Linked DNA regions of Homo sapiens. The protein of the gene in region 1 interacts with the protein of each later gene in a pairwise test. Each region holds a gene or a part of one and is shown on either strand. Other genes may lie near its edges. The genes, in order: DNAJC1, CMTM7 and TNFRSF10C.

Region 1 (3,751 bases):
TCTTGCTGTGTCCTCACATGGTGGTACGGGCAGGGCAGCTCTCTGGGGCTTCTTTTATAAGGACACTAATCTCATCCATTAGGACTCCACCTTCGTGATATAATCACCTCACAGAGGCCCCACCTTGTATTACTGTCACAATGGGGATTAGATTTCAACATAAGAATTTCGAAGGACAAAAACATTCAGACCATAGCATGGTAGAAGGACATTCAAGGAAGAGCAGACAGTAAGCACAAAGGCCAGGAGGCAAGAGCTTGCTTAGCGTTTGAGGAATAGCAAGGCAGGCAGTGTGGCTGGAGCAGAGTGATCAAGGAAAACAGTAATGGGAGAACAGCAATAGGAGACAAGATCTGAGTCATAGGTGGTAAGGGAAGACCATGTAGGGCTTTGTAGGCCATTGTAAGGACTTCGGCTTTTACTTATAAGTAAGTTGGGGGAGGTGGTGTTTGAACAGAAAAGATACATGATTTGACTTGAATTTCAAAATGATCTCTTTAGTGTACTGAGTATAGTCTGTGAGGCATTAGTTACTTAGAGGGATAATTGTGGTATAGATTGGACCTGGGTGGTAGCAGTGGAGGTGGTGCAAAATGGTCAGATTCTGGATTGAATTTCAACATGGAGCAAACAGAATTTTACTGATGGCTTGAATGTGGTATGCGAGAGAAAAAGAGAAACTGAAGATAATTCTAAAGATTTTTGGCTTCAGTAACTGGAAGGATGCAATTGCCATTTGTTGAGATGGAGAAACCTGGACTAGGAGCCTGGTTTGGAGAACATCAGGAATTTGGTTTACGGACATGCTAAATTTGGGGTGTCTGTTAAACGTTGAAGTTGAGCTGGTATGTAGGCAATTGGTTATTCAGGTGTAGAGTTACAAGAAGAAAGTTTAGGGCTGTAGATAGGAATTTGGGAGTCCGAGGCACTTAGAGAGTAACTTGAAGCCACAAAACTGGATGAGTTCACCAAGGGAGTGAACGTAAAAGAGAAGAGAAGAGATCTGGGAGCTAATAAGCCTTGGGGATTCCAGACTTTAAGAGTCAAGGAGCCGGGTGTGGTGGCTCACGCCTGTAATCCCAGCACTTTGGGAGGCTGAGGCGGGTGGATCACGAGGTCAGGAGTTCAAGACCAGCCTGGCCAACATGGTAAAACCCCGTTTCTACTAAAAAGATAAAAATTAGCCAGGCGTGGTGGCAGGCGCCTGGAATCCCAGCTACTCGGGAGGCTGAGGTAGAGAACTGCTTGAACCCGGGAGGCGGAGGTTGCAGTGAGCCAAGATTGTGCCACTGCACTCCAGCCTGGGCGACAGAGCGAGACTCCGTCTCAAAAAAAAAAAAAAAAAAAAAAGAGTCAAGAAGATGGAGGGGAATCAACAAAGAAGATAGAGCAGGAACGACCAGTAAGGTAGGAGGCAAACCAATACAAGGTTCTCTTCAGTCAAGTGAAAAAAGTGTTTCAAAGACAAAGGGATCAGCTGGGTTAAATGATGATGATGATTCAAATAAGATGAGCTTTGAGACTTCACCGTTGGAATTAACCGTATGGCGGTCACAGGCTACCTCAGTAAGAACTGTTTTGGTGAAGTGGTGAGTTCAGTAGTCTGGGTAGATTGGGTTCAGGAGAGAATGAAAGGGAAGAATTGGAGACAATTAATATAGAACATTCTTTTGAGATATCCATATCCTAAACTAGAAGGCAGAGATGGTAGTGACTGTCTGTGGCATCTTCTTTATCCCCTTATCCACCAGGTATAAGATAACTCAGTTACTCTCTAAGCTCTATAATCTGAATAACAGATGACTTAGAACTTGGACCAGACCACCTTATGACCTTGGACAAGTTAGTTGCCTCATTTTTAGGACAGATGGTAGCTTTTTATTTTCTTCATAGTAAGGCACATAGTAAACACCTAAATATTTATTGAATCAAACATTATAAACATTGTAACTAAATGCAAACTGTAATTCCCCAAACAAGTAGTTGCTTGACAGTTTTTACTCAACAGATTTTACTTCTATGTAATCTTTCACAGCCTTCAGGCAGCAGAAGAATCTTCTTCCATGTATCCTTAGATTTCACGTCCATTCTAGAAGTCTAGAAAGGGGTTGCAGAAGTCTTTGTTGGGGGGTATATACAGATGATTTATTAGTCATTCATACCATGTTTAGAATGACTTTAATAATAGGGCACTCCAATTTGGATATTGCATCTTTTCAGAGGAGATGGGGGGAAGATGAGAGAGGAGTGTAGGAAAAAAGATGTGCTATTGAAAGATCTTTCGTTACCATCTTAAATTATAGGTTCCTGCACAGTATTTATATTTTGTGTAACAGCACCTGCTTCTCAGACACCTGTACTTCTTGTGGGGTCAGTGGCAATTCTGTATTTCTTTTTTTTTTTTTTTTTTTTGAGATGGAGTCTTGCTCTGTCGCCCAGGCTGGAGTGCAGTGGCGCGATCTTGGCTCATTGCAACCTCTGCCTCCTGGGTTCACGCGATTCTCCTGCCTCAGCCTCCCGAGTAGCTGGGATTACAGGCACCTGCCACCATGCCTGGCTAATTTTGTATTTTTAGTAGAGATGGGGTTTCGCCATGTTGGTCAGGCCGATCTTGCACTCCTGACCTCAGGTGATCCACCCACCTCGGCCTCCCAAAGTGTTGGGATTACAGGCGTGAACCACTGCGCCCAGCCTCTATATTTCTTTTAATTGTCTTTTGGGACCATGACTTTCCTTATCCTTTGTATACAGTAATTCTAGCCAACAGTAAACACTTCATATTCATTTAAAAAAATCTGTGAATTGAAATAATGACAAGCTAAATTATCTTAAATTTTGTAGTATTTACTTTATGCTGAAGTCAAGATTTGTCTTCATGGTGCCAGTCAGTCATTACAGACTTCTATTTATGTAGCTAGAAAATGTGCTTCATTCTCTTTCTCTCGTGTTTTATAACTAAATCCTTATATTCAAATGAATGCTGAAACTTGGTTAACAGAAGAAAAGCAGAAGAACAGGGATGTGCTTATAAAATATTTGGATTTTAATTTTTAGATAGGAATTAATAAACCTTTTAAGCTCATTCGGCCTGTATTTTCAAATGTACAGATTAGCTAGCCTGTTTAGAGGAGGGACAATTATTGCCCATTCATCCGTGCCCCATGGTTGGGAGGAACTTCCCTAAAAAAACACCACTGATCACTAGACCCATCTCTAACATCTTACCATGGCGGTGTGAGTTACCTTACTGGAGGGTGATTGCCTTTGCTCTGTTTTGCTTGATTAGGAAGAGCTGATCAGTCAGAAAGCTATGAGTAGTGGGAATCAGTCTCTTTGCACCTCTCTGCCCAGACCAGTAAGGCAATTATCCTAACCAGACTTACCCTTGAGCATACTGTCTCAAAGTCTAGAATGTAGAGGAGAGGGCACAAATTGCTAGCAAGCCCATTTGGCCATCACATTTAACCTGTATTCTTCAATAGCTGTATCAGTTATAAAGGTTCATCTCTTGTCTGCCCGACTCCTGTGTCCACTCAGTTTTTTGGATGGGAAAAACCAGTTAATGGGGCCTCCCTAAAGCCCATCACAGTCCTTTTTAGAAATGAAGATGATGATTTCATTCATGAATGATGGTGAATTTGTACTGTGATTATCAATTTTGTCCAGTGATTCTTGCAGTGGAATCCACTGAGCTTGTGGTGTTGAGTGTAGTTCAGTCTTTCTCTGTGGAGTCTATTCCTTTGTACATGTG
Region 2 (3,751 bases), on another chromosome or scaffold:
AGGAAAGGTGTCTGGTGCCATCTTTAGCCAGACACAGGCACACTCAGTGGACCAGACTTGGCAGAGGCACGAGGGCTCAGGTCTGCTGAGGAAATGTTCCCAAGCATGGGTGGCAGGAGACAGGGTCCTGAGACCACCAGACACCTCCCCAGCCCAATCAGAAGCCGACGTCTCTTGAAAACTGCCTCTTGAGTTTTCTGTAGAGATTTTTCATCGTAGACCTCAAAATCTCATTTCTTTCTGGAAGGATGCTCAGCCAGGCTGAGAACCTGGGCAAACTTTCTGGCACCTGGCTGGTTGCGGGTGTACACTCAAGCTGCAACCAGACTAGTTTGGTTCCAGAGTCCTCAGGGGACCATCACTTTTCTCAGATCATGTCAGCTTCCTTCATCTCTTGTGAAATTTAAACCCTCTGCTCCTTCCAAAAAATCATGTCTTCTTTCTAGTAAGAATTCTGACAGAATGGAGTCAGAAAGGACACAGGTTCCAGGGAGTGATGTTTCTTATCTGGAATTCTAATTCCAGTGATTCTGTGGTATCATGGCTGGTCTGTGGGACCCTTGCTTTGAGTTGAGGGCTCTTGCAGTGTTACTTTTAAACCCCTGGACATGGCTGGGCACCGTGGCTCACACCTGTAATCCCAGCACTTTGGGAGGCTGAGACGGGTGGATCACTTGAGGTCAGGAGTTCGAGACCAGCCTGACCAATATGGTGAAACCCTGTCTCTACTAAAAATATAAAAATTAGCCGGCCGTGGTGGTGCACACCTGTAGTCCCAGCTACTCAGGAAGCTGAGGCAGGAGAATCGCTTGAACCCAGAAGGCAGAGGTTGCAGTGAGTGGGGATAGCGCCACTGCACTCCAGCCTGGGTGACAGAGTGAGACTCTGTCTCAAAAGAAAAAAATAGGCCGGGCGCGGTGGCTCACGCCTGTACTCTCGACACTTTGGGAGGCCAAGGCATGCAGATCGCAAGGTCAGGAGATCGAGACTCTCCTGGCCAACATGGTGAAACCCTGTCTCTACTAAAAATACAAAAATTAGCTGGGCATGGTGGCGCATACATGTAATCCCAGCTACTTGTGAGGCTGAGGTAGGAGAATCCCTTGAACCAGGGAGGTGGAGGTTGCAGTGAGCTGAGATGTTGCCACTGCACTCCTGCCTAGCGACAGAGTGAGACTCCATCTCAAAAAAATAAAATAAATAAAATAAACCCCTGGACATTTATGTTAGATATTTTATTTTTATGACAGTTCAATATAAAAGAACAAACCGTTACGAGAGGAGCTAGAAGGCACCTTAAGAGGCAAGTGAACCCTTTGGACAGCATCACTTTGAAGTTACTCTACACAGAAACATCTGTCTTCCAGGAGCCTCCCAGCTGCTTCACTCCGTCCTGAAGTCAGAACCCCTACCTCCAGTCCTCTCTGAATTCAGGCGTGTTTGTGCATTTGCTTTTCTAACTGGGAACACGAAGACACCTGAGAGGGTTGGAGCTGGCGGGAGGAGGGCAGGGATAAACACCCCAGCGCCTTTTCCCCACTATTGTCTTGTTCTTTCTTCCACTTCACCTTTGCTTTCTTTTTTAACTTGTATATTAAGTTCAGGGGTACTTGTGTAGGTTTCTTATATGGTAAACTTGTGTCATGGGAGGGGGTTGTTGTACAGATTATTTTGTCACCCAGGAATTAAGCTTCTAAATAATTCAGGGGGCCCCAGCATTTGCAGAAGTTACCTACTGGCTTTAGAAGAATTTCTGAAAAGTTTGATGTCAGTCAAATCTTTTTTTTTTTTTTAACTTAATATGCTGGCTAAGATGCTGGCTATTTAAAGTTGGAATGAATGAATCCCTGGGCAAAAAGGAAGCTTTTAGGAGCACGCATAAGCACACACCATACTCTGGCTAAATTAGATTTTCTAAAATTGGGCTTTCCTAAAGAAAGTCATATGGTAGATGGCCATAGGCCCAGTGAACCGAATTCAGAAAGTGTTATTTCATGAGCAAGTTTCCCAGAAAGGTTCGAGATGTTTCTGATAGAGCAGGAATGTACTTCCTACTACACAGTACTCAGCCCTGGAGGCTCAGAGCAGGAAGACCTGACCTGCACAGGCCCCTTTTGTTGGCTGGGAAACTTCCACATCCCTGTGTCACCATGAAAAAGAGCTAACTTTGTCTTCAACGACGAGTTGGAAAATTATTTTAATCTCTGCATTAAACTAGATGCAAAATTGCCTCTCTACCTAGGAATCACGCTGCATAATCCCACATTATCTGCATTTTCAGTCATGCCTTGAATAATGATACTTGAGTTCTTGAGGAGGTCATTGTGGGGCTGGGAAGACCCCTAGACTTCCCCATGTAGATGTGGCCTGGAAGTAAGACTAACGTAGCAGCAAAGCCCTGGCGATCATGCACACTCCTGAGTAAGGCAGAGGTGTGAATCATTATATCACCATGGCTGGCTAGCTTCAGAGGAACCGAAAAAATGAAAACACTTGCGTTGCTCATTAGCAAAGGGAAATACACAAATGTTGAGGGACTCTTTGTGTCACAGCCACACTCTTCTGTTTCGATCTGGTAAGCAGAGCACTCTCCATACCTGCTTCAAGCTTCCAGCTGAGAGTTCTCTTTTAGCTGTTGTACCTATTGCTGAGGATCTTGATAGTGGGCTAGCAACAAGGGGCTTTAGAAAATAAGAGCATTTCAGCATCAACTGTTTTAACTGGAGTAAGATCCATTTTGTGATTTGATTTGATTTTTATTTTTTTAGAGACAGACTTTCACTCTGTCTTGCAGGCTGGAGTGCAGTGACGTGATAATAGCTCACTGCAACCTCAACCTCCTAGGCTCAATTGATCCTCCCACCTCAGCCTCCCAAGTTGCTGAGACCACAGGTGCATGCCACCACGCCCAGCTAGTTTTTGTATTTTTTGTAGAGACAGGGTCTTGCTTGTTGCCCAGGCTGGTCTCAAACTCCTGGCTTCAGGTGATCCACCCGCCTTGGCCTCCCAAAGTGCTGGGATTGCAGGCGTGAGCCTGGGATGCCAGGCATGCACCAGGCCCCATTTTGTGATTTAATTCTCATTGTAGACTGACATTTTCTATAGCAGAATTTTTCAACAGTAGTACTGTAGTTGAGGGGCCACATTTGGGGCTGGAGATGGGTAACTCTTTACTATGGGAGCTCTCCTATTTATTGCAGGGTGCTTAGCAGCACCCTGGGCCTCTACCCACTAAATGCCAGTAGCAACCCCCATCCCCGCAAATTGTGTAAACCAAAAATATATACACACATTGCCAAATGTCCCATAGGACACAAAATCATATACCCATACGCTAACACACCCATACACTAACACCACACGCATACACACACACACACACACACACACACACACACACACTTTAAGACTCGCTGCTCTGGCCAGGCGTGGTGGCTCACACCTGTAATCACAGCACTTTGGGGAGCTGGGGCAGGCAGATTACTTGAGTTCAGGAGTTTAAGACCAGTCTGGCCAACATGGTGGAACCCCCTCTCTACTAAAAATGCAAAAATTAGCTGGGCATGGTGGTGCATACCTGTAGTCCCAGCTACTCTGGAGGCTGAGGCAAGAGAATCGCTTGAATCTCGTAGGCAGAGTTGCAGTGAGCCAAGATCATGCTACTGCACTCCAGCCTGGGCAACAGAGTGAGACTCCATCTCAAAAAAAAAAGAATCACTCCTCCATAGGAGAGAGGCAGTGTATAAAATAA
Region 3 (3,751 bases), on another chromosome or scaffold:
AATGCATATGGGAGGGAAGATATCTCTTCAATATACTGACGTCATTTCCTTTGGATGTATACCCAATAGTGGGATTGCTAGATCATATAGTTGTTCTATTTTTTGTTTTTTGAGGAACCTCCATACTGTTTTCCATAATGGCTGTACTAATTTCCATTCCCACCAACAGTGTACCAGCATTCCTTTTTCTCCCCATCATCAACACTTGTTACCTTTTGTCTTTTTGGTAATAGCCATTCTTACAGGTGTGAAGTGATATTTGGCACTTGATGGTTAGTGATGCTGAGCATTTTTTTCATATACTTTTTGGCCACTTCTATGTCTCCTTTTGAGAAGTGTCTATTCAGGTCCCACGCCCATGTATCCATTTTACTTGGATTATTTGATTGTGTGCTATTGAGATGTTTGAGTTCCTGTGTATTTTGGATTTTAACCAAAATCTTGGATCTTTTGAATATTGACCCTCATTCTGTAGGTTGTCTCTTCACTCTGTTCATTGTTTCCTTTGTCATGCAGAACCTTTTTAGTGTAATGTAACCTCATTTGTCTGTTTTTCCTTTTGTTGCCTGTGCTTTTGGGGTCATAGTCAAGAAACCATTGCCCAGACCAACATCATGAAAATTTTCCCCTATGTATTCTTGTGGTAGTTTTACCATTTCAGATCTTATGTTTTAATCTTTAGTCCATTTTGAATTAATTTTTACATATGATGTGAGATAAAGGTCTTATTTCATTCTTCTGCATGTCAATACCTACTTTTCTCAACACCATTTATTGAAGAGCTGTCCTTTCCCCATTTTGTGTTCTTGGTATCTTTCTCACAATCAATCAACTGTAAATGCATTGATTTATACCTGGGTTCACTATTTTGTTCCATCAGTTTATTTACCATTGTTGTGCCATTACCATTCAGTTTTGATTACTATACTTTTGTAACACGTTTTAAAATCAGGTAGTACGATGCCTCCATCTTTGTTCTTTTGTTTGTTTTGCTTAAGATCACTTTGGCTATTTGAGGTCTTTTGTAGTTCCATACAAATCTGGGCGTGGTGGTGCGTCGCCTATAATCCCAGCTACTCGGGAGGCTGAGGCAGAAAAATCGCTTGAACCAGGGAGTTGGAGGTTGCAGTGAGCCGAGATTGTGCCACTGCACTCCAGCCAGGTGACAGAGCAAGACTCTGTCTCAAAAAAAAAAAAAAAGACACATGAATATACATAACAGTCAGGATGTCCTGATGGGAACCATGAAGAATAGTTAAGTGACAGGAGATAGACAAGGTTGGTGGGGCCTCTCGGGGATGGTGATTTGGGCTGATATTTAAAGTTGGACAGGGCCAGTCTTGCAGAGAGCCAGGAAGAGTGCTCTTGAGAAGGCCCTGAAGGAATGAGAACCCCAGGTTTCGGGGGCTTGGGGAGACTGAGCGAAGACAGGGGGCCACTGTGGTGAGTGGACAGCAAACAGGTCAGGTGGACCAGCATGGGCAGATCACATGTACAGTAGGTTGGATGTTATTTTGTGAGTGACGGCGTAAAAAAAGTAAAATATCTCAATGATGTGTATTGATTACATGTTGAAATGTAGTATTTCAGATATTTTAGGTTAAAACTATATTGTTAAAATTAATTTGGCCTCATTCTTTTTACTATTTTAATATGGCTCTCATAGAATTTGAATTTTGCATAGAATTTGAATTTTGTATTATATTTCTGTCAGCAGTGCCAGTCAAAGGTATGTAATAGATGCTGAATGGATGACAAGACCAAGCCTGGAAGAGTGGATTTCTCTGTCTCAATTCCAGTGAGGGCCAAAAAAGAAGTTTCCCCACCACTGTCAGCCTCTGGGAATTCTGTGGTGACTCATTCATTGGCTTTTCTCTTCCTTCCCAGGATCTCATAGATCAGAACATACTGGAGCCTGTAACCCGTGCACAGAGGGTGTGGATTACACCAACGCTTCCAACAATGAACCTTCTTGCTTCCCATGTACAGTTTGTAAATCAGGTACAGAATGTGTGGACCTCTTGTCCAGAGGTGGAGCGTGGGGCAATGAGGTGGGAGTTGTAGCCGATATGAGTCAGGGAACCAAGTTCCAGCCCAACCTGGTCTTCATCACCCTGTTCTATGATTATATATTTGACTGATTAAAAAAATAGAAAGAAATCTTTTCTATAATGCATGCCACCTGGCTGGGAAATCGTCTAAACTGTCAGCTGCAAGAGGGTGGGGGGATCATTAGAGCATAGAGAAGGCCTGGCCCAGTGGACAGGGCTAGGTTTCAGTAGTGGCACGGGTCTGCTCCAGGGCCAGGCTCTCTCCCCCAGGCTCTGTGCTCCTGGCAGGTGCTCGGCCTCACTCAGCCTTCAGGTTCTCAGGCCCCTTCCTCCTCCCCAGCAGGCCCAGGCTTTGGGGAAGTCCCCCAAGGCCTCCGTCTCCTTGCAGAGTCTCTCAGGTGATGCCCTTGCACCTCCCTTGCTACTGACCATGCCATCTAAACAATGCTTTTCCCCTAATCTGATGTAATAAATAATGAATTATGCTCCTTTTTATGACTCCTCTGAGTGCTGGTGACAGCTGAAGGGTGGGTGTCCTGTATGAGCCCTGAGTGTGCTGGTGCAGAAACTGGCCCTTAGAACTCCTTGGTGAACTTGGTTGAGCTGAGTGGGAGGGGGTGGGTGGTAAGGAAGATCGAGGGATACATCAGGGAAACACATTCCCAAAACCTTATGCTCTGTTGTCAGATCAAAAACATAAAAGTTCCTGCACCATGACCAGAGACACAGTGTGTCAGTGTAAAGAAGGCACCTTCCGGAATGAAAACTCCCCAGAGATGTGCCGGAAGTGTAGCAGGTGAGACAGCAGTCAGGGGCTCCTGACAGCTTTCAGGAACCCGAGAAGACCTGAGTCACCTGGTACCCCTATTTCTCCGCTGACCCTATGGAGCCTCCAGACCCATGGGGTGTCCCTGAGCCTGTGGGGTCTCTTGGGTCTGCAGTGGCCGCTCCTGGTCCATCTGCCTGTCCCCACCCCTACCCCCTGCAGCAGCCCCTTCCCAGACCCTCCCCAGCACGAGTCCCCTTGGCCAGACCAACTTGTTCACTGGGCACAAGAAGCAACTTTCTGGATCCCTTGATCCTTTTCAGCAAACCTAGGAAATGCGATTTCCTTTTGAAATGAGAAGAAAACACTTGAATCCAGTCTGGGTTGTATTTGTTGCTATACCAAGCTGTTTTAAAAAATGTTCTTTTTAATATTTTTTATGCAGGCAGGACCCATAAAGACAAAAGTGGTCACGGCCGACAAAAGTCATAAGAAGGCTGTGGGTGGAGCTCCTTCAAGTTCCCATGAAGGCCTGAGCCAATCCAGCCGGCCTCACCCCTGGCCCCAATCCCTCAATAAGTCCTGTCTTTTCCCTATTTGGGCTTTAAGGGCCAAGAGTAATTTGTTCTTCTCTGGCCCCCTAATGTTTGCCGTGATAGGGAGGAACCAGCAGACAGTTGGGGGTGAGAGATCACTTGTACTGTGGGTTGACTGGAGGAAGGGGCTCAGCTTGTGGCCACAAGGGCTCGTGACCTTCCCCTGGAGTGTGGCTCCTCCTAACGCAGGCCTCCTCTGCAGCCCAGGGAAGCTCAGTGTGTGCCCGGCACAGAAGGCTCCTGTGGCCCCAGAGCAGGGAGGCTGAGGGGCTGAAATGCGCATGCTCAGACCCTTCCCCAGCCTCAACGAGGGAACTTGGGGGACCCCCTCCAGACAG

Evidence for each region.
Region 2: the proteins of DNAJC1 (region 1) and CMTM7 interact in binary tests that used the Homo sapiens proteins (3 or more experiments, as listed by UniProt).
Region 3: the proteins of DNAJC1 (region 1) and TNFRSF10C interact in binary tests that used the Homo sapiens proteins (3 or more experiments, as listed by UniProt).

What each region holds. Positions count from the first base shown.
Region 1 is NC_000010.11:21,997,051-22,000,801, reverse strand, and holds part of DNAJC1 (dnaJ homolog subfamily C member 1 precursor), read left to right. Parts: intron 1-3,751. UniProt on the Homo sapiens protein: May modulate protein synthesis.
Region 2 is NC_000003.12:32,436,705-32,440,455, forward strand, and holds part of CMTM7 (CKLF-like MARVEL transmembrane domain-containing protein 7), read left to right. Parts: intron 1-3,751.
Region 3 is NC_000008.11:23,112,770-23,116,520, forward strand, and holds part of TNFRSF10C (tumor necrosis factor receptor superfamily member 10C precursor), read left to right. Parts: intron 1-1,887; coding exon 1,888-2,001; intron 2,002-2,738; coding exon 2,739-2,847; intron 2,848-3,751. UniProt on the Homo sapiens protein: Receptor for the cytotoxic ligand TRAIL. Lacks a cytoplasmic death domain and hence is not capable of inducing apoptosis. May protect cells against TRAIL mediated apoptosis by competing with TRAIL-R1 and R2 for binding to the ligand.